Linked DNA regions of Homo sapiens. The protein of the gene in region 2 purifies or fractionates together with the protein of the main gene of each other region. This does not show direct contact. Each region holds a gene or a part of one and is shown on either strand. Other genes may lie near its edges.

Region 1 (5,026 bases), on a different chromosome or scaffold from region 2:
GAGACAGAGGGAGAAGATAAAAGCAGATGTTCTTACGAAGATGGGCACCAGGATGCCAACACCCAGGGGCCAGTGGGGCCCAGGCTGTCCAGGCTGGTGTGGCTGTGCCGTCCCTGCAGGTCCTGCCTGCTAACCTCAGTCCTGTTCCTGCTCACAAGTGGGGGAAGGGGGACCCGAAGTGGAGGGGACAAGGGCCCAGCCAAACCCTCAGTCCCAGTTCCTTCCACTCCTGGCCAGTTCCCATCTGTGTCCCTGGCATATGAAAAGGCCGAGAGTGACATCATGCACCTGCGTCCACGCAACCCAAAGCGTGACAGATTGGTCAACGAGCCCCTGGCTGCCTACTCCTACTTCCAGATTGGTGGGTGCCCGTGGGCCGGGGAGCCTGGAGGTGGGGGGCTCTGCGCTGGGCTGCTCGCCTGCCCCAGGCCCTGCCTTGGGCTCCGGCTGGTTCTGGACCTCAGTGTCTGCATTTGGTCCTGGGTCTCCGTTGTCCTCCGTGTCCCTCTCTGTTTGTGACAGTCTCTCTGGTTCTGCTGTGTCCCTGCTCTCTCTCTGACCTTGCTCTCCATGACCCTGTCTCTGAGTTGTTGCCTATTTCTGTCTTTTTGGGTCCTGGATGTGTCTTTTTCTCTCTGTCCCTGCCTCTGTCTCTCTGTCCCTGCTTCTCTCTCTGCCTCTGTGTCTCTGTCACTGTTTCTGTGTCCCTGGCTCTGTGTGTCCTTGACCTTGTGTATCTGTGTCCCTGTCTCTCTTCCCGTGTCCCTGTCTGTGTGTCCTTGACCTTTGTGTATCTGTGTCCCTGTCTCTCCATGTCCCTCTCTTCCTGTGTCCCTGTCTCTGTGTCCATCTCTGTCTCCCTGTGTCCCCTTGTCTCTCTCCAGGTGCCATTCAGTCCTTTGCTGGCTTCACTGACTACTTCACGGCAATGGCCCAGGAGGGCTGGTTCCCACTGCTGTGCGTGGGGCTGCGGGCGCAGTGGGAGGACCACCACCTACAAGATCTGCAGGACAGCTACGGCCAGGAGTGGGTGAGCCCTGCCCCGCCCCATCCCATCCCTGGGCTCCCTCCTTCCCAGGGCAACTTGCCTTGTGTGCGGCCCACTTGTTCCTCCACGTGTGACTGAGTTCAGCCAGAGCATCCCGGACCCCCAGACTCCCTGCCAGTTCGGGGGGGCAAGGGCCTTTCCCACCATCTCCAGCTCCAAACTCCTGCTTCTGATGATCGCAACTGCAGATGGGTGTCTCTGCCCTGACACTAATGCATCATCTCAGATGTGGAACCAGGCCCCTATTCTGCTATTTTCCCTACAGCATCACTCCCACAGGGTATTTGCACATGTGGTCTATTTTAATGAAGGTTTGGAGCACAGTGAGGCTAGATCTGGCCAGCAGATGTGTTTAGTTCACCTGTAGAGTTACATACAGACGAGGATACTTCCCTTAAACATTTACTATCATGGTTAAGGTAGACACTGAAGCCAGACTGCCTGGACTTATGGTCTGGTACTGCTTCTCACAAGCTGTGTAACCCTGGGCAGGTTGCTTTGCCTCTCTGTGCCTGTTTTCTCACCTGCAAAGTGGAGAGAATATCAAAGTCTACCTCAGTGGTTTTCAGTTTGCTCCCAGACCAGCAGCATCACCATCTCCTGGGAACATGTTTGCAGTGCAAATTCTCAGGCTCTATCCCAGCCCTCTGGGAGCCCTTGCTGGGATTCTCATGCATGTTCAAGTTCCAGCACCACTGATTTACCTCCTAGGGTTACCCAGCGGATTAAATGAGCTAATGCACGTGCAACACTCGGCACCTGGAGCAGTCAGTGATCCCCACAGTTAGCTGGTATTAGGAGTTGTGTTGCCAGGCATGGTGGCACATGCTTGTAATTCCAGCTACTTGGGAGGCTAAGGCAGGAGAATCTCCTGAACCTGGGATTCGGAAGTTGCAGTGAGCTGAGATTGCACCACTGCACTCCAGCCTGGGTGACAGAGCGAGATTCCATCTCAAAAAAAAAAGTAGCTGTGTTGAAGAAATGGGCTGCATAGTGGCTGCCCCCTTTAAATGGGGCATCTGCCCTCTTTTCCCAAAGGCCCGCGGTGACTGCCTCACCTATTTTTGCCATCTGCCTGGCCCCTGGAGTCACTGGACTTTGCAAATCCCATCTGAGGATTTCAATTCCCCTTTCCCAGGCCCTTTCTTTTGGGTGCCTCCCCCCTTTCACTATGAAAGCAGTCGGCCCAGCCTACAGTTTTCCCGGCCACTGTCATCCAAGCTCTGCTAGGCTGAGGTTTCTGGGCCCCACGTTCTGGGGTCCTGCACACCTGGCAGACCCTGCCTCTCTCCTTCCCCCCACCCCCACACTCTGATGCAAGGCAGAGAGAGCATTTAGGGGTTCACGGCCCTGGGACCCTATGCCCGGTGGGCTGCAGAGGCTCTCCGCCGGGACTCAGGCTGGACTCAGGCTGTTTCCGTTTGCCCCTGGCCTGCAGACATTCGGGCAGCGCCTGTACCAGCAGTACACCTGCTACACCGTGTTCTTCATCAGCATTGAGGTGTGCCAGATCGCCGATGTCCTCATCCGCAAGACGCGCCGTCTCTCTGCCTTCCAGCAAGGCTTCTTCAGGTGTCCCTGGCTGGCCCTCTTCCTGCCCTCCAACCCCTGGTCCCAACTCCCATCAGATCCTGACTGTGGTTTAGAACAGCCGGCAAATGCCAGCGGGTGCCAGTGCCAGATGGTGACATGCCAAAAAAACCTTTCTAACTGGCCAATAACTCCCCCCACGGCCCCCTCCACATTTCACTAAAGGGGTGGTGCTGAGAGGCCCGGGCCACTCCAGTGTTCAGTGTGTAGAACACCTCCCTGCTGCTGCTGACATCTGACCTACTTTGACCCACAGTATCCTGATTTCCATCACGTCCCCAATTCCTAATGGCCTGTCCCATTCTGCCCACCCCCAGGAATAAGATCCTGGTGATCGCCATCGTGTTCCAGGTCTGCATCGGCTGCTTCCTGTGCTACTGCCCCGGCATGCCCAACATCTTCAACTTCATGCCCATTCGGTGAGAGGCTGTGAGGGGCAAGGACAGGGAGGGGGCTGTAGGGCACAGGCCTGGGATGGCCTTCACCTTGCCATGTGCCTTCAGGTTCCAGTGGTGGCTGGTCCCCCTGCCCTACGGCATCCTCATCTTCGTCTATGATGAGATCCGGAAGCTTGGAGTTCGCTGTTGCCCAGGGAGTGAGTGTGGAGACTGGGAGCCTGGGGGCAGGGGACTGAAACGTTTGAGCAGCTGCACCCACCTTTGATCCTCAACACTTGGCCTCTAAGCCCTTGACCCTCCATAGCAACCAGCACTGACCTCTGAGCCCCTGGCCCTGCCTAAGTGGCACCCCCAGCACTGAGTCTCCTTTCTCCCTCTCTCTCCCAGGCTGGTGGGACCAGGAACTCTACTATTAGAGGGACGACTGCCTTCAAGCATCCCTGCAACTGCCACAGCAGGTGGGGGCAGGGCTCGTGGGACCCTCTGGACAGCCACCAAGATATCTGAGCAACCAAGAGTCCCAGCCCCACCAGTATCTGCTTCTGTAGCCCACGGCACCCCAAACTTGGAGGGACCTGCCCACTCCCCTCCCCCATTCCCAAGGTTCGCACCTCCTGGAGCAGCAGCGCCTGGGCAGTCCTCTGGGCTGGCCTCGGGAAAGCCGCCACCTGTGGTGGCGGTGGGGCTCTGACAGGGAGTACAGCTGACCGCTTCTGGAGGGTGTTTCTGTTCTTAGGACTCCAGTCCAGGCTGGACGGCTGCCTGAGGGCCCTTCGTTAAAGACACGCTTGTGTCCTGGGCGATGGTAATAAAACCAGCTCATGCTGACTGTGCTGTATCTGGTGCCAGGCACTGTCCTCAGCGTCTCTCATTAGTGCTTGTGATCTCCCACAGTCCTGTACATGGGGGCTGTTTATCCAGGGCTGCACCTCCAGTGCCTAGTACACAGCCTGGCACATAGTAGGTCCTCAATAAACCTGCCTTGGGGAAATGATTCCTATTCCTTTGCCCAGGGTCATGGCATCTAAACGCAAGCTGGGCCGTGGCGATAGGCACCCCCTACCACCTCTGGGCTTTCTCTGTTCTCAGCACCCTTCTCCCTCCTGGAGGCTCCCAGACACAAGGGGGCCCAAGTCATTTCCACATCAAGCATCCCCCACCCCCCAGCGGTGTCTCCTTTCTGAGCCTACCTGCTTACTCCTCTGTCCCGGCAATGGCCAGTTCCTGAACAACTCCTGGAGGTCCCCTCCTCACACCCCTCACCTGAAAGGTTAACCCCATCCCCCTACCTCCCATCTCTGCCGCTCCTTTCCCAGCCCCTCTGTTCACCTCTCTTCCTCTTTCTTATGTGGCTTTCTCTGGCTAGGGCCTGGGCTTCTCCTTCCTTGTGACCACAGCCCCCCAGTCCCCCATGGCTTCAGTTGTTTCTGCAGTGAGACCCACCTCTGTCCCCAGCTTCCCCCAGTGTTGGTGACCTACACTGGCCTCTTCATCACCCCCCATGCCTGTACCCATGCACTGACCCAATCTGATAGTCCCACTGTCCCATCAGTGTGGTCCCTTCTCCCTTGGAAACGTGGTGAGCCCTCGGGCTTACAAGCCCCAAACTCCAGTTATCCTGGAACTCTTTGCTCCTCCCTTACCTGTTAGCGCCCCCTGCCGGTAAATAAATACACACAGCCACTGATCACCAACACCTGGGCTTGGCTTCTAGTCACTCTCCTAACCCCACAAAGCCCTGCCCTGGTCCAGCCCTGGCCTCGTGGCCTCAGCTTTCCCATTTCAGACAACAGCCATGCAGAGCTTCCTAAAGCCAAATCTGACCCTGTCCTTCCTCTGCCTAGAGCTCTCCTTGGTTCCCAAAGCCTCCTGTGATCTGACCCCTGCCAGCTTCTGTAGTCTTACAAGTCCCCTTGAACTCATTCCAACCAGTTATGTTCCCTTGGGAAAAACAGGCCCCCTCTCTGACCTCAAGACCATTACCTCTGCC
Region 2 (8,193 bases):
CTCAGTGAATTTAAACATTAAAAAAAATTAGCTACCATTAATTATTTCCTGTGGCCTAGGATTGCTGAGGGCTTCACATGCATTGCCTCACTTAATCAGACTAGGGAGGTATTATTAGTCCCATTATACAGGTGAAGAAAACTAAAGCTCAGTCACAATGTCTTATCCAAGTTCACTCAGCTAGTAAGCACAAGTGACAGACTAGGAATTCAAGCCTGTATCTGTCGGATTCCCAAGGCTGGACTCTTTTTTTTTTTTTCTTTTAGAGATAGGGTCTCACTCTGTCACCCAGGCTGGAGTGCAGTGGTGTGATCATAGCTCACTGCAGCCTCCACCTCCTGGGTTCAAGTAATATCCCTGCCTCAGCCTCCCAAGTACCTAGGACTACAGGTGTGTGCCACCATACCAGGCTAATTTTTTGGTTTTTATGTTTATATAGATGGGGTCTTGCTATGTTACCCAAGCTAGTCGCAAACTCCTGGCCTCAAGTGATCCTCCTGCCTCAGCCTCCCAAAGCACTGGGATTACAAGTGTGAGCCACTGCCCACTGCACCCAGCCTCAAAGCATGGACCCTTGACCACTAAGTATATTGCCCACAAAATAGGTCATTATAATTTATTGACCCTCTACTATGAACCAGGCACTTGGCTTGACACCTTACACACAAATCTCTAATATTCATGGCATACCTCTTTTCCTAGAGGTATTAATTTCAGTCCAGAGATTCTGATGTGCAATAAATTTCTCTATTCTCTGTAACCCATCTAAATTCCTGACTCTTAACCCCTATTTTCAGGCCTTCTGGATTTCTTCTCCCCACCCCACCCCCAACCCCAGTAGTTATGCCATAGTTCTGGACAAATACAATAGCCAGGCATGGGGTCAGGGGAGTGTGACCTAGTCCTCTGTCATCAGTCCACATTGGTGGCCACTGAGGGGCCCATCCTCCCATCAACATGACCTGCTGGCCCCAGAGACTCACTGCTCTCCCACCCTACATCAAGCCAGGTATATCTTTTGCCCATGTGCCAACACAGCCATTTCCTCCCTGGGTTCTTCTCTTCCAGCAGGATTTCTGGGAAGCAAGGTACTGTCCCCTCTGCTCTCAGACCCATAGACAAACCTCCCCCTTCCACACCACCTGCAAAGCCCAAGAGAATGTCTTTCTAGTGATGGCAAGGTGAGGGGTTCCTTCTCCCTTCACATCCCCTCAAGAAATGTTAGTCTTTTGCTTTTCTTTGTTGGCTAGAATTCACCTGCCCACACTTTGGGAGGCCAAGGCAGGAGGATCACTTGAGCCCAGGAGTTTATGGCCAGCCTGGGCAACATAGGAAGACCCTGTCTCTAAAATAAATAAAATAAAATAATATAAAATAAAATAAAATTCACTTGCCCTAAGGTCCTATATTTTTGGAAGACAAAAGATTTGTAGCCTTCTCTCTACTTTGCCCCTCTTAAGTGGAAGGGAGACAGTTTGGGAGAAAAATAAGTTGATATCTCAAAATATTATCTCAGATACATGTTGTCCCCATTTTATAGGTGAGGAGATTGAACTCATTAAGGTTATATAATATTATATACAGCAAGTAGATAGGCCTAGGACCCCCCCAGTTCAGGAAATCTCATACTCTGTGAAGTCCTCCCCTCTTCCCTGCCAGTAGCCTCCCTGGTCAGCTTCAAGAAAACACAACAGAGCTTGTGCATTAAAACCACCACTGGAAGGTCAGACCCGGTGATGGGGCAGGCTGGAAGAGCTTAGGTAGAGGTGAAAGCAGACAACACCCTGAAAGGGGACAGGTACCCACTCCTCCTTGTCATTTTCCAGGAGAGCCTTATAGAATTTGAGTTGGCATGAGATGATGTTAGAGGAATTTGGGGTGGTGCAAGTAAAGGAACTACAAGAGCTAGAAACAATCTTGAAGGCTTCTTCCCATGTTGAAAGTGTTCTTACCACGTAGAAAGTGGTAAGAAAGTGTACTCTGCAGAAATTTGGGGGGCGGGTGGGGGCACACGGTTGGTATTTCAGAGGCACTTGGATTCACTGGTGTCTTTTGATGAGTTTGTGTCCCGAATAAAATGGGGAGTGGCGGTGGTTACTGGCAGTACCCAGAGGAGAGGAGATGAGGGTGGGCACAGGGGAGAGGAGCCCGAGATGGGTAGCCAGCTGGTCTTACGTGCCAGCTTTATAGGAAAAAAAGTGGAACTTTCAGATTCTGCTTAACTGTGCAGGAGCCAGCCAAGTATCCAAGGCAGAAGTCCTTGCTCAGAAATTGTATATCTGATGGGCACGGTGACTCACGCCTGTAATCCCAGCACTTTGGGAGGCCGAGGTGGGTGGATCACAAGGTCAGGAGTTAGAGACCAGCCTGACCAACATGGTAAAACCCCGTCTCTACTAAAAATACAAAAATTAGCCAGGCATGGTGGTGGGCACCTGTAGTCCCACCTACTCTGAAGGCTGAAGCACTAGAATCGCTTGAACCTGGGAGGTGGAAGTTGCAGTGAACCGAGATCGCGCCACTGCACTCCAGCCTGGGCGACAGAGCAAGATTCCATCTCAAAAAAAAAAAAGAAAAAGAAAAAGAAATTGTATATCTGACGGGATGGTCCGCAAGCTTCGGGGCTTGGGAGGAAGGTACAGTCATAGGACAGAACACAGCTTTAGACTGGGTCAAGATCGTCCAAGTCTGGTGGTGGCTTCAGAAGGCCCTTTGAATGAGGCTCGTCCAGGCAATAATTACCATGTTATCTAATTTTGCCCGCTTAACGTTTCCACTTGGATGTCTAAGAGCCATCTCAAAGCCCCACGTGGCCAAGGCTGAATCTCTAATCTTCCCCCAACAGACCTGCTTCACTCACAGCTTCCCCTTCTCAGCTGACAGCAACCCCATTAATCTGCTTGTTCAAGCCAAAAAACCTGGAAGTCATCCTTAACTCCTCTCTTTCTCCCACATCTCACAACTCAGCAGTCAGAAAATCCTGTGGGCTCTACCTTCAAAATATATCCACCACCCATCCACCACTCCGCAGTTGCCCTTTACCATGCTGGGCCACGCCACCATCACCTCTCACTGGGCCACTGTAATAGCCTTCTAACAGATCTCCCCACTGCACCCTGGCTCACTTGCAAACCAGAGTGATATTTTAAAACTATAATACAAATCATATCACCCTTCTGCTCAGAGTCGCCCCCCATGTGTCAATGCATAAAAGTCAAAGTCCTTACAATGTCTCCCCATTCATTGGCCTCCTTGCTATTCCTGGAGCACACCAGGCATACTCCTACCTCAGGGCCTTTGCACAGACTGCCCGAAGCTCTCCTCCCCAAGACGTCCACAGGGGCAACTCCTTCACTTCCTTCAAACCTTTGCTGAAAGTTTAACTTCCCAATGCAATTCACTCTAACCACTCTGCTTAAAATCCCTACCTTCTCCCCAACCCCCTGCTTTTCTTGTAGTGGTTCCCATTACATTCTACCAGTCTACCTAATTTTTTTTTTTTTTTTTTTGAGACGGAGTCTCTCTGTGTCGCCCAGGCTGGAGTACAATGGCGCGATCTCAGTTCACTGCAACCTCCGCCTCCCAGGTTCAAGCGATTCTCCTGCCTCAGCTTCCTGAGTAGCTGGGATTACAGGCACTCACCTCCACGCCCAGCTAACTTTTGTATTTTTAGTACAGATGGGGTTTCACCATGTTGGTCAGGCTGGTCTCGAACTCCTGACCTCGTGATCCGCCCTCCTCGCCTCCCAAAGTGCTGTGATTACAGGAGTGAGCCACCGCTCCTGGCCAGAAATCTCTTCTTTATTATGTCTACTGTCCGTTATCCAACTCCAGAAGGTAAGAACCTCCACTGATACATAAGGACTTGTATACCCCACGTGCCTGCAACAGTGCTTGGCACCTAGTAGGCATACCAAAATATATAAATGTTGAACAAATGAAGAAAGTTAAAGTAAAACTAGAGGTCCAAAAATATCACAAAAGCCATCTATGGTCGCCTTTTCCCTACCTGATTTTGCTGAGTGGCCTTACTTTTCAGTCCTCTACACAGCTGGAACATTAATGAACACAGAGGGGGAAGAAGTGTGTTTACTCTAGGATCACCTCTCAATGGGTCACTTGGCAAGGGCATCTTTGCTTCTTCGTCAGCTCCTTTTGACACGGGGGTGAAGGGTTTTCTGCACCACACTTTGACCACAAGCATCACCAATTTCACTGAACCCAACAGAAATTTGGACCCTCTGGGGGCTCTCTGCGTGGCAGGGCCCTTTTCTTTTTCTTTGGGCTTAGGCTGCAATTTGAAACACCACTTTCCTGAGCCAGCATCCCCCTTGCAGCGCTGTCACAGGGAGGCTTAGGCAGCCACGTGGAAGCCACCTACCCCGACCTTTGGCAGAATTTCCAAACACAACACAGTAGCTTTAAGTTGATTAATTTGGAACTCTGACCTTGGCCCCAAAAGGTAAGAATACATAACAAGGTATTTTATTCTCAAAATGTGTCAGGATAAGAAGCACTTCTGTAAATCGACCTTTTTAAAATAGATATAATTAGATTTGCAGTTGGGGGCAGTAAAGAAAGGGTCTGAACAGTGGATAACATGTTGAGAGGTTAATTATTAATGGGCAGTCTTCCCTAACAAAGTATCTAATAGGCATTGTGGTCTCTTTGGCTTCAGAAATTACCAAGAAAGCCTGGACCCCGGGTGAAACGGAGAAATGGACACAAGTCCCCTGTGTTTCTCCATTCTGTTGGTTTTATGCATCTTTATCCAATCAAGTGCCCTTGGACAAAGCCTGAAACCAGGTAAGAGCCTGACTTTTCTCCAGAGATGGGCATGAACTTTTCTTTTTAAAACGTGTGTCACAAAGAATCCAGGGGTTTCTGACTGTATGGGACAGAGCTTGCTTCAGAGCGTGCCAGGTGGTTCTATACACGACCTCACAGGTTCACAGGGACACGTAGCCGTTTGTAAACAGAAATGAAATTTTAGAAAATCATCCTCGGATTAAAAGTCTTCTAAGAGTGCCTGCAGCTAGCAGTGAAGTCTCTTGCGTATCTGATATGGAAACAGTCATGCTAAAAGTTATTCAGCGGCAAATGATATGAAAGCGATTCAGATCTTCCTGAGAGTTAATGTGGCATCTAATTTGCAACCGGGGAGCCAGGCTTGCAATGAAATGCTCTGTCGGGTTGGGGTTGTCTAATTGCCTGCCTCTCTCAGAAGAGAGGGGAATTTATGAGAGTTCTATTTCCAGTCAGGTCTAAAGTAGAGATATCATTGCACAATTTCTAGACTTTGTTTTGCTGCCAAAATTTTAGTCTGAGGCTGAAGAATCCAACAGCCGTCCTGCCTGTTTTGTTTGTAAATTCACAAACTAGATTGATGGCGAAAGACAGATCAAATGCCTTATCAGGAAGGTAGTAGAGTGGAGCCCAGCTTCCAGGCTAAGCAGTGGACCAATAAATGACGGATCAGTTAATTGAACAATTTGGCCAGACTAGACAGGTGTTTGGGAATTTGTTTTGGTACTGGTTACTGGTCAGGAGCTAGTAACGCTAAGGTAGAGTCTGAGATTTTTCTTTTCTCTAAGACTAGCCTTGGAGAGAGCTCCGACAACTTTGAGAATTAGAAATTCCCTAACGGGATGTACCTAAAAATTTCAGAAGCTTTTTTCCCCTTTAAGAAAAAGGCTGTTCCTTTGTATTTGACTATTTTACTTCATAGGCCAGTTAATAACTGAGTAGCAGTATTAATTATTGCCATTCACTAAGTATTTTCTGTGCCAAGCACTATACTAATTATTTTTGACACATCATCTCATTTATAAAGCCACATCCAAAAATGACCCTTACATAATAATTTAGAGCCATACAGGTAAAATTGCTGGTAATCTTTATTCCCTTGGTTCATAGTGATTTTGCTAAAGGGCCTTTCCTGCCCTTTGCCCCGGAATGTTGTATTTGTTTGTTTACTTTTTAATGAAGTTTATAACACACTTCTAGAAAAGGGCCTCTATCATAAATCCTCAATGAGTTCTCACAAACTGAACCAGTACCCCAAAGCCTTCCTTGTGTGCCCCTTGAGCCTTAACATATATGATTTTTTCCTTTGGGGAGATTTTTCATTAATAGAAACACATCAGTTGCTCTTTTGCGTCTGGCTTCTTTCGTTCGACATTATGTTTGTGAAAGTCAACCATGCAGTTTCGTGGAGTTGAGGCTCATTCATTCTCACTGCTGTAGCATTCCACTGCGGGACCATGCCACACTTCCTTTATCCATTCTACTGTGGATTGGCCAGGACTGTTTTTGCAATGGAGCCATGGGAATTGGAAGCTGTCAGTGCTGAGATAGAGGTTGAAGGGAGGGATGGCCTCCCCCAGGCTTCTGGGTATTGTCCAGATTTTCCTTGAGCAATCTCATTGTCCTGATCAGCCTGCTTCTTTCCCCGGGGCCTAGTTTGTGCAAATGCTGAGAGAAGTGGCCACTATTAGCAAGAGGGTTCCTCAGAAAAGAGGATCCAAGTCAGGAGGCCTCTTGTTCTCTTGGAAGCAGAATCTCTTGGCAGAATTCTTTCTGCAATGAGTGAGCCCAATCTGTGTGCATGTGGCTGGTATGATGTCTTTCTGGGGAAACCGCAGGGAAGCCGGTGTCCTGTGGTGGAGCCCTTGTCAGGAAAGTTTCTACACCAATGGTTCTCAACAGGGGCAATTTTGCCCTCCAGGGGACACTTGGCAATGTCTGGAGACATTTTTGGTTTTTGGTTGTTAAGACCAGGGAGAGAGTGCTTCCCTTCCAGCATCTAGTGGGTAGAGGCCAGGGAAGCTGCTTCACATCCTACAATGCACAGGACAGCCCTCACAACAATGAATTGTCTGGCCCAAAACATTATTAGTGCAGAGGCTGAGAAACCATGATCTATGCCAAGCTTCAACTGTCACTCATCGAGCACCAGGAAGTACTCCCTCAAGGACCCTTCCTCTTTAGCCCCTCCTCCCAGCCTACTTCTTTTGAGTATTTATTATTAATGACATCTTACTAATGGAGTCACTAATGTGCTGCACACCCAGCATGTGCCAGGCACTCCACGGACATTTTATCTCATCCTCACCATATGGTTGAGTAAGCTGGCAGTTAAGTGCCTTGCCGGCGGTCGCATAGCTGGTCAGGGCAGAGCAGGGAGAGGTACCTGCAGCCTCAATCTGTCTACTGAGGCCGCAGTGCTCTGTGTCGAGCCCACACCCAGTGATTTGACAGCCAGAGGTTTCTAGAAAAACATTCTGCTCAGTTCCTCTCACAGAGAGGGAGATTTAGACAGTTGTTCCTGCCCTTCAGCACTAAGGGGGACTGGATAGCGTGAGCTGCTTGAAGCCCACATGGCACATCACACTTATGCCCAGCCCCAATGCCTGAGACCCAGGTTCCCCAGTCGGTGTTGCCATGAGAGCCAACGCTGCTCCTAGACCCTGGCAAGTCCCACCTTCCCGGTACTGGGCCCACTATCAACAGGCACCTTCTCCCTCCCCTCCACCCCAGCCTCAGCTTGCAAATCCTAGGAGCAGCTGAAAGCTACCTATTCAGTCAGTCCCTCATGAGTGTCACAAGCATACATGAGCACCTGCCATACGTAACGCAGTGCCTGAGTACAACTCACACACTCTGTTCACACGTTTCCTCTCTTAAAAATCACTGAGGACCCCAAACAGTGTTTATTATGTGAGATATCAATATTTCCTTCATTAGAAATTAAAACTGAGAAATCTTTAAAATCTGCTAACACTTTTTAAAATGATAATAAACCCTTGCATATTAACACATATAATGTAATTTTATGAAAAATAACTTGTATTTTCCAAATAAGTTTTAAATGGAGAAGAGTGACATTGTTTTACAAAGAAATGTTGCAAATCTCTCTAATATCTGGCTTCCCAAGACAGCTGGATTATCTTACCTGTTTCTGTACTCAGTCTGTTGTGATGTATTGCTTTGTTTGAAATGTAGGAAGAAAATCTGGCCTCCCATAGAGGAAAAGGGAGGACATCCTAAGGCGATCTCCCTGGGGCCTTGGCCTGCAAACCACTGCGCTTGTGCAGTGGGCACTGTACAACAGGGGGCTGCACAGCCGTCCCCACCTTGCAGGAATTTACAGTCAAATGGGGTGGGAGTGGGGTGGGGAGGGAATAGGGGGCC

The links. Proteins that work in one complex are often made in the same cells at the same time.
Region 1: the proteins of LIPC (region 2) and ATP4A purify together in Homo sapiens (affinity purification with mass spectrometry; 2 studies listed by BioGRID and IntAct, with this or other methods). This does not show direct contact.

The regions. Positions count from the first base shown.
Region 1 is NC_000019.10:35,549,041-35,554,066, reverse strand, and holds the end of ATP4A (potassium-transporting ATPase alpha chain 1), read left to right. Parts: intron 1-237; coding exon 238-361; intron 362-884; coding exon 885-1,030; intron 1,031-2,486; coding exon 2,487-2,620; intron 2,621-2,955; coding exon 2,956-3,057; intron 3,058-3,141; coding exon 3,142-3,233; intron 3,234-3,423; coding exon 3,424-3,452; 3' UTR 3,453-4,036; downstream 4,037-5,026. UniProt on the Homo sapiens protein: The catalytic subunit of the gastric H(+)/K(+) ATPase pump which transports H(+) ions in exchange for K(+) ions across the apical membrane of parietal cells.
Region 2 is NC_000015.10:58,427,315-58,435,507, forward strand, and holds the start of LIPC (hepatic triacylglycerol lipase precursor), read left to right. Parts: upstream 1-4,676; 5' UTR 4,677-4,718; coding exon 4,719-4,806; intron 4,807-7,586; exon of another isoform or gene 7,587-8,193. UniProt on the Homo sapiens protein: Catalyzes the hydrolysis of triglycerides and phospholipids present in circulating plasma lipoproteins, including chylomicrons, intermediate density lipoproteins (IDL), low density lipoproteins (LDL) of large size and high density lipoproteins (HDL), releasing free fatty acids (FFA) and smaller lipoprotein particles.